2 linked regions of the Homo sapiens genome follow. The gene in region 2 interacts genetically with the main gene of each other region. Each region holds a gene or a part of one and is shown on either strand. Other genes may lie near its edges.

Evidence for each region. A genetic interaction does not mean that the proteins touch.
Region 1: changes in NEURL2 (region 2) and PTP4A3 together harm fitness less than expected from each alone (positive genetic interaction), as found in Homo sapiens cells (one study listed by BioGRID).

What each region holds. Positions count from the first base shown.
Region 1 is NC_000008.11:141,395,021-141,402,635, reverse strand, and holds part of PTP4A3 (protein tyrosine phosphatase type IVA 3), read right to left. Parts: intron 2,066-7,615; exon of another isoform or gene 1-2,065. UniProt on the Homo sapiens protein: Protein tyrosine phosphatase which stimulates progression from G1 into S phase during mitosis. Enhances cell proliferation, cell motility and invasive activity, and promotes cancer metastasis.
Region 2 is NC_000020.11:45,888,209-45,896,850, forward strand, and holds NEURL2 (neuralized-like protein 2), read right to left. Parts: upstream 3,001-8,642; 5' UTR 2,784-3,000; coding exon 2,042-2,783; exon of another isoform or gene 680-2,041; coding exon of another isoform or gene 666-679; coding exon 550-665; 3' UTR 426-549; downstream 1-425. Other genes in the region: CTSA (lysosomal protective protein isoform b preproprotein), read left to right, coding at 3,361-3,554, 3,708-3,819, 4,065-4,115, 4,190-4,276, 4,517-4,672, 5,012-5,103, 5,780-5,864, 6,442-6,533 and 2 more. UniProt on the Homo sapiens protein: Plays an important role in the process of myofiber differentiation and maturation.

The DNA.
Region 1 (7,615 bases), on a different chromosome or scaffold from region 2:
TGGGCGGGGGCAGGGCTGCCTGCCCCCACTCCACCCAGCTCCCGAAGGCAGGAGGCCGGGACAGGCGCGAGGCCGCCAAGAACACAGGGCGCAAGGCCCCACGGAGGTCAAAGATCCCCCTAGGGCCAGGTAGTCCCTGCTGGCAGTGTCTGTGGGAAAGGCCCTGGGCCTAGCCAGCTACACTCAGGCCTGTCAGTGGGCACTGGGGCTGCCACAAATGCCGGGGCAGCTGGACCCATCCTGTGGAGTGGAAACCCAGGCCCCTGAGCCCACTCCAGGAGGGTCCAGACCTACAGGGTTATCTGGGGGAGCCCTCCCTGAGCAGGGCGCCAGAGGGCTGGAGGAGGTGGTGGAGAGAGGGGTTCTGCAGGGCCACAAGTACCCCGACTGGTCCCATCCATGCCTTCAGCCCCTGCCAGCTGTGCCTGCCCACCTCTCCCTTCACCTGCTCCACCCACACCTTGCAGCCTCAGACCCGTCACCCAGGGCGGCCTCCAATGTTTCTAGAGGCTGCACCCTCTGCTGGCACCCCTCTCCCCAACTCCCTTCTCCTGGACACCCCAGCTGCTGCCCAGGTCTCCTCCTCCAGCCCCGACCCAGGGTGGCTTGTGTGATATCAGGGGAGGTGTGGGATCCCGGGAGCTGGAGGAATGGCCCTGGCATCACGGGGCCCCCCTGGGCTGAAGCTGGAGTGGCCTCGTCCATGCCTTGAGACTGTGAGCTTCATGGGACTGGGCCCTGCTGGGGCCACAGCGGGGGAGGGGTAGGTGACTGTGTGGATGGACAGATGGATGCGCTCGGTAAATGGTTCTGTCCATGCTCCGGCCCACGTGCTCCAGTGCCTTGGAGCCCCGCTCCACCTGCTGTTCTCTGAGCTCCCTGCCCCCGCATGCTATCCTGGGACTCCACAGCACAGACCTCTGAGCCGATGGCTGTCCTCACAGGCCCGGGGCCCCTCGGGACGGCCCTTCCGGTGACTTCCTGCCAGGGAGGCCAGGGGGAGGGGTAAACAAGGCCTCCAGATGGCTTCCTGTGGCTGGGCAGCCGTGGGAACAGCCCGGCCCAGGGAGGCTACCAAAGGAGGGGAGGGTGGGAGCAGGGGCCAGCCAGCAGCATCCGTCAGCAGAGCATCTGCTGAGATGGACCCGCTGCCCTCTCGGAGCCTCCGACATGGCCGGGGGGACGTCACACCCTGTTTACAGAGGGGGACACTGAAGCACAGGCAGGCAAGTTACCCCAGGGCCAGCCCACCAAACCCAGTGCCCTCCCCTCCACACCAGAGACTCCCGTCTCTCTGGCCTCATCTGCAAAGGAGCAGATGAGCTGGCTGGCTAGAGGTCACCTCAACGACAGGACGTGCAGATGTGCAGGTGCCAGCTTGTCTGTCTTCCATCCCAGCACTGCCACTCCCCAACTGTGCTACCTAGCAGAGTGCCAGCCTCAGACACCAGCTTCCCTCCCTGGGAAACAGGACGACCATGGCAGCTGCCACCAGGGGACCCTGAGGTTTAAGGATGTGCCCTGGGTGAGCTCCGGCTGCTGGCCCAGAAGAGGCTCGCGACGGTGCCATTAAGAGTGATGCCGTTCCGTCAGGTCCTGGGTCCCCAGGAGGAGCCTGTCCTCACCCGGCTTGCCCCTTCCTGGTGCCTCGTGCATGACTCCCTCCGTACTGTGATGCCATCTCCTCCCAAAAGCCCACCCTGACTACCTGCTTCCTGCCCCACCACGACCTCTAAGTCTTGGGGACACATGCTCCAGGGAGGGAACTGCCATCTCCTACAAGTCCTACTCACCCATGGGATTTCTCTGGGGTCAGGACCGCCCCTCTCTGCCTACTGCCATCCCCACGGGGCCAGTGTGGACCCGGGCAGCCCCCCAAGAGTTATGGGGAGGCAGGAGCTACACAGCAGCCAGGATAGGGATGAAGGGGCTGGCAGACACACAGCCGGGCACCAACAACCCTCCCATCTGACCCAGGGTTCTGCCAGCGGGCCAAGAAAGACTCACCCCGGTGCCGAGACGCACATCCTGGCTGTCCATGGCCTCACTTAGGAGAGCCCATCATGGGGGTGGGGGGATGGCTGGTTAATAAACAAGCATCTGACCAGACCCAGAGACCAGGGTCCAAGGGTGCCATCGGGAGAGGACCCCAGTCAACACCCAGGGAAATTTCAAGTGACACTGTAAAACAGCACCCGAGGCCGGCACGGTTCTTGTGAAATGAAGCAGAAGCCCAGAGCTACTGCAGCCGTGTATTTCCCAGGCTGTTTGAATTTTTATAATGAACATCACCAAATGTGTGTCTAAAACAATAACCACGTTTGCGCCTGGCACAGTGGTGGGCCGGGCACAGATGTGGGCCGGGCACAGTGGTGGGCAAGGTGCAGAGGCGGGCCAGGCGCAGAGGTGGGCCAGGCGCAGAGGCAGGCCAGGCACAGTGGTGGGCCGGGCGCAGTGGCTCACACTGTAATCCCAGCACTTTGGGAGGCTGGGGCAGGAGGATCACTTGAGTCCAGGAGAAGCAGCCCGGCTAACATGGTGAAATGCCATCTCTACAAAAAATAGCTGGGCATAGTGGCGCATGCCTGTGGTCCCAGCTACTCAGGAGGCTGAGTCAGGAGAATCGCTTGTGCCTGGGAAGCGGAGGTTTGCAGTGAGCTGAGATCGTGCCACTGTATTCCAGCCTGGACAACAGGGTGAGACTCCGTCTCAAAAAAGAGAAAACAATAACTACATGTTTGAAGCGTTGTTCAAATGTCGCCTCTCCCCCATGTGAGCTCCTTGTGGGTCCCGCAGTGCTGCCATTGCACGTCCCCAGCCTGCCCCAAGAACACAACCTGGCAGGTAGGGAAACTGAGGCACCCATGGACAGCCCTCCCCCAGGTCACAGGCCTGGAAGAGAGTAAAGGGCATGCCACCAGGACCCCGTCCATCCATTGCAGTCACCGACTCAGAAGCAAGCAGCCTGGCTCAGGTGGCTGGAGCTCAGCTGCCAGGCCTTTGTCCTGATCCCACCCATCTGCTGTGGGGGCCGGGGTCTCCCCCAGGCTCCCCATTCTCCAGACACAAAAACGGAGGCCCAGAAAGGGCAGGAGCAGGGAGAGTCGGCAGAGCCAGGGCCAGGCCTTGTAGCTCCCCAGGGCCATGCGGAGGGGACAGGGAGGCCACCGAGGGGAGGGGCAGCCGGGAGCCCCGGGCACCCCCAGGGACCCCCTGAGCTCCACACGGCAATTCCCAGCAGATGGGCCTCTGGGCAGCTGGCCAGAGGGAAGCAAAGCCCGGGAGGAAGGGCCTCTGCGGCTGACCCAGGACGGGGAGATTAAAGGAGAAGATGTTTGCCTTGGCAGGGGCCCCAGGACCAGGCGAGCCAGAGGAGGGGGCCAGCGTTCCAGGCATCAGTAGAAGATGCCAGAGTGGGGGTGCCAGGAGTAAGAGGCACCGGCTCTAGGGGCAAGGGCGGAGTGGATGAGCAGGTAAAGCACACCGTGTGCCACAGGAGGGGTGGTGACAGGGACCTGAGGCAGGCGGGCAGAAACCCTGGGTGGGGTGGCGGGGAATCCTCCGAGCCCTCCCGAGCCTCTTCCAGGAAGCCTGAGTCACAGGAGGGACCCAGGGCCAGGAGAGCAGCCGGGAGCACCGGTCCCGTGGGAAGGGGACTGAGATGGGGACAGGGACAGGGCAGGGCCACCCGTCACCTCCTCTAGCTGGGCCAGGCCTGGCTTCGAGGTCTCCGTGGCGGGTGAGGACGAGGCCGTGGGAACAGGCTCCTGCAGCTCCCCAGAGGGACTAGGGGGTGGTAGAGCTAGACAGAGTGGGTCCAGCCCATCCTGCAGAAGGGGAAACTGAGGTCCAAGAGAAAAGCCTCCTGGACAATGACGTCATCAACTGAAGTGTCCCCTGGGCAGCCCAGGCCTGGACACTGGGGAGAACAAGGCAAGAGTCTCCCCAGCCAGGCCCTGAGCACCCTCATCCGGGGGTCTTCAGGTTCCAGAGTCCAGTTCTAGCACATCCACCCTCAGCCATGGACCCGAGACCCTCCAACTCCCAGGGTTAGAGACTTCCTCTTGATGCCCTATTTCCAGGACCCCACCCCAGGGAAATCTGATCCCCGCAGGCCCTGCTCCACCTCACCACCTCACTCTAGAACATTCCCTGGTTCCTGCCACTCCATGCCCCAGGATGGGAGTCAGGGACTTGAACCCTAGTATGCTGAGTCTGGGGTGTTCCCAGACGCCCGTCTGCCCACATCAGCAACGCTGGCTCCTGCAGGGGTGCTGGAATCTCTGGGAGTTGGAGGCTGTGCCTCAAGCAGAACCAAGCAATCAGGGAGTGCTTCCCAACTTATAACCACTCAAATGGTCCAGCCTCTTATTGGCAAGTGCAGAGCAGAGACTCCAAGGGATGTTATGCCCACCTCTGAGGGTCACCTAGCAGGAGACCTGGGCCCCACTGGCCCACTCCACCCCTCATCCAGCAAATAAACCCTGAGCACTGGCTAGGCCAAGCCCTGGGCAGAAGGCACAGGGGCCCTCTTCTTGGCCATCCCAACACCACTGGGCCCTGACCACATCTTCCAGGGCCAAGGGCTCCAGCCTGGGCACCTCCAAGCAGGCCTCAGGCAGACGCCTCCCTCCCTGCTCCGCCTGCGCTGACTGTCCAGGGTCCTGCATCCAGGTCTCGGCCCGTCCAGGACTGAGCCACACACAGCGAGGCTCACACATGATAAAGGCAGGAGCCGGGCCGACCCTGGACAGAGAGCGGGCTAGTGGTGCCAAGCCCTCAGAACCAGGGGCAGCAGGAGGAGCAATGCCCAACTCAGGTCCAATTTCTGCAAAACATTTTGTTCAACTCCCTTCCAGCTCTGATGGGCAAAGATAACAGAATCTCTCTGAACTATCCAGAAAGATCACTGCCTTTTATGGACAAGAACACTGGTCCCAAAGAGGTCGAAACCAGGCTCCACAGCCACCGAGGCACTCAGGCCCCAAGGCAGGGTTCTCATGACCAATACCCGCCCCGCCACCTGCCTTGTGAGGGTCTGCAGGGGACGTGCACCCCACCTTCACCTCCTGACTCACTGGACTCCCAACTGAGGCCAGCGGGGAGCATGTGCCCAGCGTGGGGCAGCCAGGTGGCGGAGTTGTCATTGTTCTGTACTTGTGGTAGGAGCTGGGCATGGCAGAGGCCCTTCCCAGCAGGACTCCTGCCCTCTCCCACCCAACCCCAACCCAGGACAGGCCTTACAGGCAGAAGTTTCAGCCCACCCGGGGGCTCCATTCAGGTCACTGGGACCTCCTTCAGAGAGCCCCCCACTGCCTGGAGCCTGTGTGACCTCATGAAGTGACAGAGCATCAGCCTCTCATTGTACAATGGGCAGGCAGCCTGTCCTGTTGTCACAGGGACCCACCAGGATGAGGTTGGCACAGCCCTGCACACCCTGGCAGCCACCTTCCCCGAGCCCCGGCTTCCCTGCGTGTAACACAGCTCTCACTCCGGCTCCAGGAGCCGCTCTGGCCCTGAGGAGGTGGCTAGAGCCAAATTCAACACAGATCAACCTGTGTTCATCCCCCTAGCCCTCTGGGGTCTTCCAGCCTGGCTTCCTCCCTGGCCGGGAAAACAGCAAGGGAGGAGAGGCTGTGGGCTCCAGGCCCCCAGCCAGCCCGGCTACCCTCCCACAGGAGTACCTGGCTCAAGGGCAGGTCCCAGAGAGCACAGCCCAGGCTGTTTCCTTCCCTGGATCGTTCATCCACTGTGTCTGGAACCCCAGCGGGCTCAGTGCACTCAGGACCCGCACGTCAGCTTGTCGGCTCCACACATGCAGCCCCTCGGGTTATGCGTGGTCTTGTCCCACGTGAGAAGGGAACACTGAGACTCAGAAGGTGACATGACCAAGCTGGCGTGGCCAAGCTAGCCCTTCCCGAGGCCACCGTCTCCCCACCCTGTAGCCCCCATCCCCACCTCATCTCTTCCTGGCCAAATCATCAGCGGTGCCCTTTGTCCCCCGTGTGCCTGTGGTGCAGCTGCTCCACTTGGCGCCAGCTCCTCGGGGCAGGGCTCGGGACTGTCCTGTTCCCAGTGGGCCAGAGCAGGCACACAGTAGGTGCTCCAGGGCTGTGGGCTCGGTGAGAGAGGAATGCTGGACGGGCTGCCCGGGGCCAGATTCCATACCACCTGATGACCTGGAGCTGCTCACCCCACTGGCACCATCACCCAAATGACCAGCACCCTCCCCTGCCCATTTACTGACCTTTCCCCAAAAAGGAGGCATGGCCAGCGTTCAAATTCCTGCTCTCCTCCCAGCAGTGACCCTGGCACGTCACTTCTCCCCTAGGGTCCTTCCCTGGCTCTAGGGCAGGACGGTAATATGAACACTTACCCGCCAGAGGTCTCAATCCTCTAGGATGAAGGGAGTTAAAATGCATCAAGTTTTACGTATGAGTCCATCACGGTCCTGACCAATGGCACCCACAGCCCAGATAATGGGGCCGGTTCTGGCTGTACCGCAATCACCAGGCACTGCCAAGGAGCCCCACCTTCACATGGCACGGGGTTACAGTCACGGCAGGGGTGGGGGTTACACATCAGGTTAGGCCTGCTTCCTCTGAGCCAGTGGCAGGGTTGGCGGGGGCAGGTGGCCAGGACAGGGTGGGAGAGGGGAGGCAGCCCCATCTGTCCCCAGCCAGGGTGGCCCTTGGCAGGCAACAGCAATGACTGTGCTGCATTTCCACTCCTTCTAGAAGCATAAGCCCTGACATGAGGGCACCCCTACATCTGGGGAAGACACCAGGAGAGGAGCCGGGGGGCATGGGAGCACCCCTACATCCCGGGAAGATGCCAGGAGAGGAGCCAGGGGACATCCCCACTGGGTAGATGAACGGGGGCTGCAGGAGGGAGGGGTGGCCCACGCACCTACCCCGGGTAGATGAACGGGGGCTGCAGGAGGGAGGGGTGGCCCACGCACCTTCCCCAGGTAGATGAACGGGGGCTGCAGGAGGGAGGGGTGGCCCATGCACCTATCCTGGGTAGATGAACGGGGGCTGCAGGAGGGAGGGGTGGCCCACGCACCTAAGGGGAAGTGGGGGTGCACTGGGCAATGGCCCCCAGTTCCCCTCCAGGAGGAAGGTAAACCTGAGGGCCCACTCTCAGGACCCCAGCTGAGCCCTGAGCCATGTGGTCATCCCTGACCCTCAGTTCCGCTTCCAAACCAGGAGGCTGCCACTAAAGCAGCCCAAGACTGAGTGGCACGTGCCTGGCGGGAAGCGATGCCCCACCTAGGGGTCCTTAGGGCCACACCCTTGGCTGGGAGGAACAGCCTGTCCTTATTTTCTGAACTGTCTTTTGTACAACAGCCTTGGCGCAGCTCAAAGGATAAGTGAGGTTCTCAGGGTCCTGACCTGAGGCGCCCCAAGGAGGGGAGACACGCGCACACTCTCTGCCAGGTGAACGCCTACTGGGCCATCGGAACCCACAGCTCGTGCCCCACCCACACTGGCACGGGCTGTGTCCACGTAGCCCTGATCCCGCTCGGCTAAAGAGCGCAGCTCTCAGCTGCCGTAGGTAGCTGCCAGGACCCTCCACCCTCTGCTCAGGCTCCTGGGTGGAAGGAAGCACCCGT
Region 2 (8,642 bases):
GGTTTCACCATGTTGGCCAGGCTGGTCTCAAACTCCTGACCTCAAGTGATCTGCCCACCTCGGCCTCCCAAAGTGCTGGGATTACAGGCCAGGTATTGGTATTTTTCAAAATTCCTCAAGTGATTATAATATATGACAAAGTTGGAACCTTTTTTCTAGGGACATACTTCTCAACCCTGGCTGTACATGAGAATCTCTTGAGAAGCTTTTACAAAACACAATGTCTAGGCCTAATTTCCCAACAAATCAAATACGAATCCCTAGGGATGGGATGTGGGACACCAGCACTCTTTACATATCCTAAGATGACTCTAACAAGCAGCCAGCCTAGGGACCCCTGCTCTTTTGCTCCGACCTGCTGACCTGCAGTGATTCTAAACGAAGTGACTCTCATAGGCTGTAGGGGCAAGGAGACCTTCCAGTGATCAAGATGTCAGCATCGGCTGTTTATTTCTGGTCTTGGCTGGCAGCAATGTGGCCAACTTCGGACCAGCCAGCCACAGGTCTGGGGCTCCAGGATGCAGCTGTGCTCTGGTGCACTGTGGGTCTTCACTCATACTTGCAGAAATCCTTAAGTTCTTTGGGCAGGTGGAGCCCATCAATGGCCAGCCGGTGCACCATGCTCCTTTGTATCACTAGGCGGCACAGAGTCTGCAGGGATGGCACTGTGGGAAGAAGACTGTGAAAGGCAAACTGAACTGGAGGGTGGGTCTGAGGCCAAGATCCAGAAGGTCTAGGTCATGGTCCCCACTTTGTCATTAAATGTGGGCAAGTCCTTACTGCTCTCTGGGCCCAGCCTGCTTCATGGGGCTGAGAGAAGCACCTCTTCCTGAGAGCTGCCACAAAGCTGCAGCCCTGTTTATATCATAACACTTAGCACAATCCCTTCCCCATTCACTTAGCAGCTTCTGGGGGCAGGGGTAGTGTCTGATTTGCCTGTGCAACTGAAGCCTCCAGCACAGGCCTGGCACAAAGAGGGTTCTGGTGCATTGAGTTCATGAAATGTGATGAGAGGTATAACTGCAATGCTTACCAGGGCTATAATGAATCATACTCAGCATTAAGAAGCTCTCAGTCTGGGGTTTGTTATGCCTCGAAGCCAATAGCCAATATGCCCAAGTCTATGAGCATGTTTCTTTCTTTTCTTTCTTTTTTTTTTTTTATTTAAAGAGAGAGGGTCTTGCTCTGTCACCCAGGCTGAAGTGCAGTGCTCAGTGAACTGCAGCCTTCAATTCTTGGGCTCAAGCGATCCTCCTGCCTTAGCCTCCCAAATAGCTGGGACTACAGGCATGCACCACCATGCCCAGATAATTATTTAATTTTTTGTACAGATGGGGTCTCACTTTGTTGCCCAGGCTTGAGCTAGCTAGCTTGCTTGCTTGCTTGCTTTCTCTCTCTTCCTCTCTCTCTCTCTTTCTTTTTTTTTTCAGAGTCTTGCTCTGTTGCCTAGGCTGGAGTGCACTGGTGAGATCTCGGCTCATTGCAACCTCCACCTCTCGGGTTCAAGTGACTCTCCTGCCTCAGCCTTCTGAATAGCTGGGATTATTGGCACATGCCACCACACCCAGCTACTTTTTGTATTTTTAGTAGAGACAGGCTTTCACCATGTTGGCCAGGCTGGTCTCGAACTCCTGGCCTCAAGTGATCTGCCTGCCTCCCCCTCCCAAAGTGCTGGGATTACAGGTGTGAGCCACTGTGCCCGGCCAAGCATGTTTCTAAGAAAAGGGCAAACAATTCTCAAAGAGGCCCCTAATATCTAAAATTGGTTTAGAATCCCTGCCCTAGGTGAATACAGGAAACACTATCAAAACTAAAAGGGAACTTGTAGGGCATCTTAATCAATCAACCAAGATAGGTACCAAGGCCCAAAACCATGTAGAGGCTTGTGCAAGATCACAAGCAGAGGTGCAATTTGAAGCTAGATTCTCCCACTCTTAAACTAGTGCCGGACAGACGAAGGCCTAGCACATGGGCTACGGAGCCCTAGTAGATTCCAGTCCCCACACTGAGCCAGGAGGGGTCGCTGCCCAGGGATACCTACAGCCATACTCGAGCTGGACAAGGCGCACGCTCTTTGTGGAAGCAAACACGTCCACCACCGCGTAGAGGGGCTGCGCAGCTGGCAGTCCCCGGGCGCTCGGGCCCATGTCCTCGCCGTTGATGATGATGTGCATGTCGGCCGTGCCATCGGGGCGCGGGCAAAAGAGGACACCCAGGCGGCTACGGCGCGCGGTCGGAGGCAGCACGTTCAGCTCATAGAGCTGGTCCAAGAGATGGCTGTAGAGCCCTGGCCGGCTGCGGCCCACCAGGCGGTCCCGGGGAATGCGAAACTGCTCAATGCGCAGATATGGTTCCACGAGGAGGGTTGGAGGTCGGCTGGGGGCCGCTGCCTCCGCCTCCGGGCGGCCCTCCCGGGGCACGCGGTTGTGGTGGCGCGTGATGGCGAAGACCCAGGTGTGGCCCAGGTTGACCAGATCGGGCAGAGAAAACTCGGGAACGGGGGCCAGACTGGCGGGGTCCAGCGCGGTCAGACCGAGACGCAGATGTCCGCACCAGCCCAGCTCTTTCTCCTCGATCTCGACCAGGAAGACCTGGCCCGGGGCCAGCGGCTCGCGGCTGAAGCACACGCCGTGGGCGAAGCTCTCCACGCGTGTGGCCCGCGTCCCAGAGGGGTCCACGCGGATGTTGGCACCGTGCACCCGATGGAAGCGGGTGGGAGGGGGCTCCGGGCGCTCGAGTCCCCAGAGTGCACCCGAATCCACGGGCTCGGAGGCAGCAGCCATCTCTCGGCCATAGGGCAGGCCAGCTGGCGCCGGGGGCTATTTTGGGCGGCGGGCAATGATGGTGACCGCAAGGCGACCTTGTAAGGCATTTCCCCCCTGACTCCCTTCCCCGAGCCTCTGCCCGGGGGTCCTAGCGCCGCTTTCTCAGCCATCCCGCCTACAACTTAGCCGTCCACAACAGGATCATCTGATCGCGTGCGCCCGGGCTACGATCTGCGAGGCCCGCGGACCTTGACCCGGCATTGACCGCCACCGCCCCCCAGGTCCGTAGGGACCAAAGAAGGGGCGGGAGGAAGACTGTCACGTGGCGCCGGAGTTCACGTGACTCGTACACATGACTTCCAGTCCCCGGGCGCCTCCTGGAGAGCAAGGACGCGGGGGAGCAGAGGTGAGCTGGCACCGGAGGCTGGAGGGGATCCCCGAGCCCGGGATCGGTGCGCGGCAGAGGAGGCTCGCGGGTGGGAGCTGGCGCTGGGGCCGGGGCTTCCCTCGCGGAGGCGCCGCCAGCAACTCCCCGGGGGCTGCTGCACGGAAGCGCTGAGGAGCGAGTCAACAGCCCCTCTGCTGCCTCCCGTAGATGATCCGAGCCGCGCCGCCGCCGCTGTTCCTGCTGCTGCTGCTGCTGCTGCTGCTAGTGTCCTGGGCGTCCCGAGGCGAGGCAGCCCCCGACCAGGACGAGATCCAGCGCCTCCCCGGGCTGGCCAAGCAGCCGTCTTTCCGCCAGTACTCCGGCTACCTCAAAGGCTCCGGCTCCAAGCACCTCCACTACTGGTCTGCCGCCCTGCCTTCTGGGCGGGATTGGGAGAAGAGATGACGGATGAGGGATGGGGGGTAGTTCTGCAGACCCCTGAGGATGCCTGGGAGCCGGGAGGGCTGGAAAGGGCCCCTCCAACTGCGCCAACCCTGCCCTGACCCCCCTCCCAGGTTTGTGGAGTCCCAGAAGGATCCCGAGAACAGCCCTGTGGTGCTTTGGCTCAATGGGGGTCCCGGCTGCAGCTCACTAGATGGGCTCCTCACAGAGCATGGCCCCTTCCTGGTGAGTGGACAGCAGGGGGAAAGCACAGTTCCCAAAGTAAAAGGCTGGGGAAAGCGAGAGAGGGGCTTTGTGATTTTCCAAAAAGTTTCCTTCCTTCTAAGCCTCGGGATTTTCCTCTATGCCATTGGCTTTGCTGCCTGTACCTCTCAGAGGTTTTACCCACATGTAAAGTGCCTCTCATGGTGGCCCTTTCCCTCCACCCAGCTGGCCCTTGGGACTTACTCAGCCATCTCTTTCCTCCTCAGGTCCAGCCAGATGGTGTCACCCTGGAGTACAACCCCTATTCTTGGAATCTGGTATAGCTGGAGCTGTGGGTGTGTCTGGGCACTTGGATGGGGTGGCATTTAGCTAATTTTTCCCTCCCCTCTAGATTGCCAATGTGTTATACCTGGAGTCCCCAGCTGGGGTGGGCTTCTCCTACTCCGATGACAAGTTTTATGCAACTAATGACACTGAGGTGAGTCTGGTGCCTGCCCATCTGCCCCAGGCTCCCCGGTCCTCCATCCATGGCATGATGCTGGGAGAGAGAGCATGGCCTTGGAGTCTACTTTTCGCTCTGTCATATGCTATTGTGGTATGGTGGCCAGTCACTTCCTCTTGCACAAATAGGGTGGGTTAATGTCATTATCTCTGAAGTTCTTTCCAGTTCAAATACCAAAGCTTCCTGATTCCCTCTGTCTTGCTCTGCCATCCCCAGGTCGCCCAGAGCAATTTTGAGGCCCTTCAAGATTTCTTCCGCCTCTTTCCGGAGTACAAGAACAACAAACTTTTCCTGACCGGGGAGAGCTATGCTGGCATCTACATCCCCACCCTGGCCGTGCTGGTCATGCAGGATCCCAGCATGAACCTTCAGGTGCAGGGTAGCTGCAGGAGGGAAGGGAGGTAGCTTGAGGCTGTGGCCTTACAGTTAGCAAGGTCAGACTGACTGGTCAATGTCCCCATCCAACCCAGCTTCCTGCATAACCTCCCCACCACCGGCTGCCCTAGGTCTGTCTGTGTGCCTCCCACACAGGAAACTCACCTGTCAGGCTGCCAGCTCTGTGTTTTGCATTGAGTGGCCTCTCATACCCACCGGCCTACATAAACCACCCTGGGTTTCAGCTTCCGGATTGCTGAAGGTCTGGGTGGTAGGGTGAGGGAGGCTCTTCCTTTTTGCCCTCCACATGAGCTGAGCACCCTGGGTGTTTCACAGGGGCTGGCTGTGGGCAATGGACTCTCCTCCTATGAGCAGAATGACAACTCCCTGGTCTACTTTGCCTACTACCATGGCCTTCTGGGGAACAGGTATGGGATAGGGCAGTTGGGCAATCTCTGGGGTGAGGCAGGTCACATGATCTCAGGTCTGTCCTCCAGGCACATGATATGACAGGCCCAGCCCAGGTTTATGAGCAGCAGGTGGGTTGCAGAAAGAACCTAGTGCTGAAAGGCCAAAGAATAGAGATCAGTTTTTCTTTCTTTCTTTTTTTTTTTTTTGAGACAGATTCTTACTTTGTCACCCAGGCTGGAGTGCAGTGGCACGATCTTAGCTCACTGCAACCTCCACCTCCCAGGTTCAAGCAATTCTCATGCCTCAGACTCCCAGGCAGCTGGGACTACAGGCGCGTACCACCACACCTGCCTAATTTTTTGTATTTTTAGTAGAGATGGGGTTTTGCTGTGTTGGCCAGGCTGGACTTGAACTCCTGGCCTCAAATGATCTTCCCAAAGTGCTGGGATTACAGGCATGAGCTACAGCGCCCAGCCAGAAATCAGATTTTAAAGGAACTAAGGAGGCCTGTCTGTATGACCCTGGGGCACCTCTTTGGGAGCTAGCTTAGATGACATACAGACCACACCCTGTGATATCTTTCCCAGTCTCCTAGGGTCAGGGAGGTTGGTGGGAGGTGGGGGGTATGCTCGCCTCCTCTGCCTTCCTCTTCCCACCAGCAGCTGATGCGCTTTTCACTCTCATCTCCTACAGGCTTTGGTCTTCTCTCCAGACCCACTGCTGCTCTCAAAACAAGTGTAACTTCTATGACAACAAAGACCTGGAATGCGTGACCAATGTGAGGTTCTGCCATCACTTTGCATGAGCTCTCCCATCCCTAATCCTGAGAACAGGACCACATTCCCTCCTTGGGGACTCCTTGTTCTCCGTCCCTCATTGCTTTCTTGCACCTTTAAGCAATTTAGTGTTCTCTGGGACATGTGTCTAAGTGTGTATTCCCACCACCACCTCCTATGGTGGCAAATCCCATAACCTCCGTGAGGAGAAAGGACTTCTTCACATTTATCAAACACCTGCAACGTGGCAGGCACTGTGCTGAACTGTGTCTATGTAGATTATTTAAGCTTCAAGATTCCCCCTCAAATGAGATCATACTACCCACATTTTCCAGATAAGGAAACTGAGGGCTATGAATTTTGAAATCACTGTCTGAAGTCACAGTGTTGGGAGGCAGTGATGCTAGGATTTGGACCCAGGTCTGGGAAGATTCCTGCCACTGAGCCTCAGTTTCCCTACCTGTGAAAAAAAGTGGGTGAAGAGGTGAAATCCAAGAGCAGTAAATCTTGGGACAACTTGGTGGGGTCGTGGAGAGGCTGGGGATCTGTAAAGCATGGTGGCTTGGTGTATCATTGCAGCTTCAGGAAGTGGCCCGCATCGTGGGCAACTCTGGCCTCAACATCTACAATCTCTATGCCCCGTGTGCTGGAGGGGTGCCCAGCCATTTTAGGTAGGTGCTGCTGGGTGCCCCTGGAGCCAACCCCAGCCCCATCTGGAGGCTCCACACCCATTCCCCCACCTCACATTGCAGGTATGAGAAGGACACTGTTGTGGTCCAGGATTTGGGCAACATCTTCACTCGCCTGCCACTCAAGCGGATGTGGCATCAGGTGTGCGAGGGCGTGGGCTTCCTCCTGGTGAGGTGGGGGCAGGGGGAGGGGCAGGGAAGCAGAGGCCCTGACCCACTGTCTGTGCCTTCCAGGCACTGCTGCGCTCAGGGGATAAAGTGCGCATGGACCCCCCCTGCACCAACACAACAGCTGCTTCCACCTACCTCAACAACCCGTACGTGCGGAAGGCCCTCAACATCCCGGAGCAGCTGCCACAATGGGACATGTGCAAGTGAGGTTCCGTGGCCACCTGTGACTTGGGGTGGTGGGTTGCTGGGGCTTGTGGGCATCGGCAGGTTTCTCAGGGATCTTCTGTGTAGAGTTTCTCAATGAGATGAGCTGTAGAGGATGTTTAACATCCATCCCTGACCCCTCAGTGGATTGAGAGTCAGCCAATTCATTCTTTTATCTTTTTTAAATTTAAAATTTTTTTGTTTGAGACAAGGTCTCACTCTGTCACCTAGGCTGGAGTGCAGTGGTGTGATCATAGCTCACTGCAGCCTCAAACTCATGGGCTCAAGCAATCCTCCCACCTCCCCAGTAGCTGGGACTACAGACGCACCACCACCCCCAACAAGTTTTTGTATTTTTTGTACAGATGGTGTTTTACCACATTGCTCAGGCTGGTTTTGAACTCTGGGGCTCAAGTGATCTGCCCATTTCAGCCTCCCAAAGTACTGGGATTACAGGCATGAGCCACCCCGCCCAGCCCCATTTCATTACGTAGCCACATTGGTTGTTGTTTCACAGTTCACTACAGCCTCAACCTCCTAGGCTCAAGCGATCCTCCCACCTTAGTCTACTGAGTAGCTGGGTCTACAGGCACATGCCACCATTCCTGGCTAATTTTTAAAAAATTTTTTTGTAGAGACAGGGTCTCACTATGTTGTCCAGGTTGGTCTCAAACTCTTGGTCTCAAGCAATCCTCCCTCCTTGGCCTCCCAAAGTGCTGGGATTACAGGCGAGGGTCCCCACACCCGGCCATCACATTGGTTAATAACTATTACTTCCGACTGGGCGCAGTGGTTCACGCCTGTAATCCTAGCACTTTTGGAGGCTGAGGTGGGGGAATCACCTGAGGTCAGGAGTTCGAGACCAGCCTGGCCAACATGAAGAAACCCCATCTCTACTAAAAATACAACAATTAGCCAGGTGTGCTGTTGGGCACCTGTAATCCCAGCTATTCAGGAGGCTGAGGGAGGAGAATCGCTTGAACCCAGGAGGCAGAGGTTGCAGTGAGCTGAGATCATGCTACTGCACTCCAGCCTGGGCAACAAAAGTGAAACTCCATCTCAAACAACAATAACAAACTGTTAACTTCCATGTCCAGTCTCCTGTGGCCACCCCCCCCCACAACCCCAAGTAAAAGGGTAACACTGGGCCCAGCAGGGCTGCTCAGGTCCATTTTGATTGGTCAGTGCTCACACTCTACCCTGTTGTATGTTGTGACTCCCACACCTGCTGGCCCCTAGACACTAAATGCCAGATGCATCCCAGTCCTCGTAACAACCAAAATGCGTCCCTTGTACATTTCTTTTTCTTTTTTTTTTTGAGATGGAGTCTTGCTGTCACTCAGGCTGGAGTGCAGTGCTGCGATCTTGGCTCACTGCAACCTCCGCCTCCCGGGTTCAAGTGATTCTCCTGCCTCAGCCTTCTGAGTAGCTGGGACTACAGGCACGCACCACCACGCCTGGCTAATTTTTGTATTTTTTTTTTTAGTAGAGACGGGGTTTCACCATGTTGGTCAGGCTGGTCTCGAACTCCTGACCTCGTGATCCACTCACCTCGGTCTCCCAAAGTGCTAGGATTACAGGCGTGAGCCACCACGCCCAGCATCCCTGTACCTTTCTAAATGGTGGTGAGTTGAGGCTGTCTGAATCCCAGCCCATCCAGCCCAACATCCAAGTCAGTCCTAGAGAGGTGGCCCCCCCCCAAAAAGGGGAGTGGAA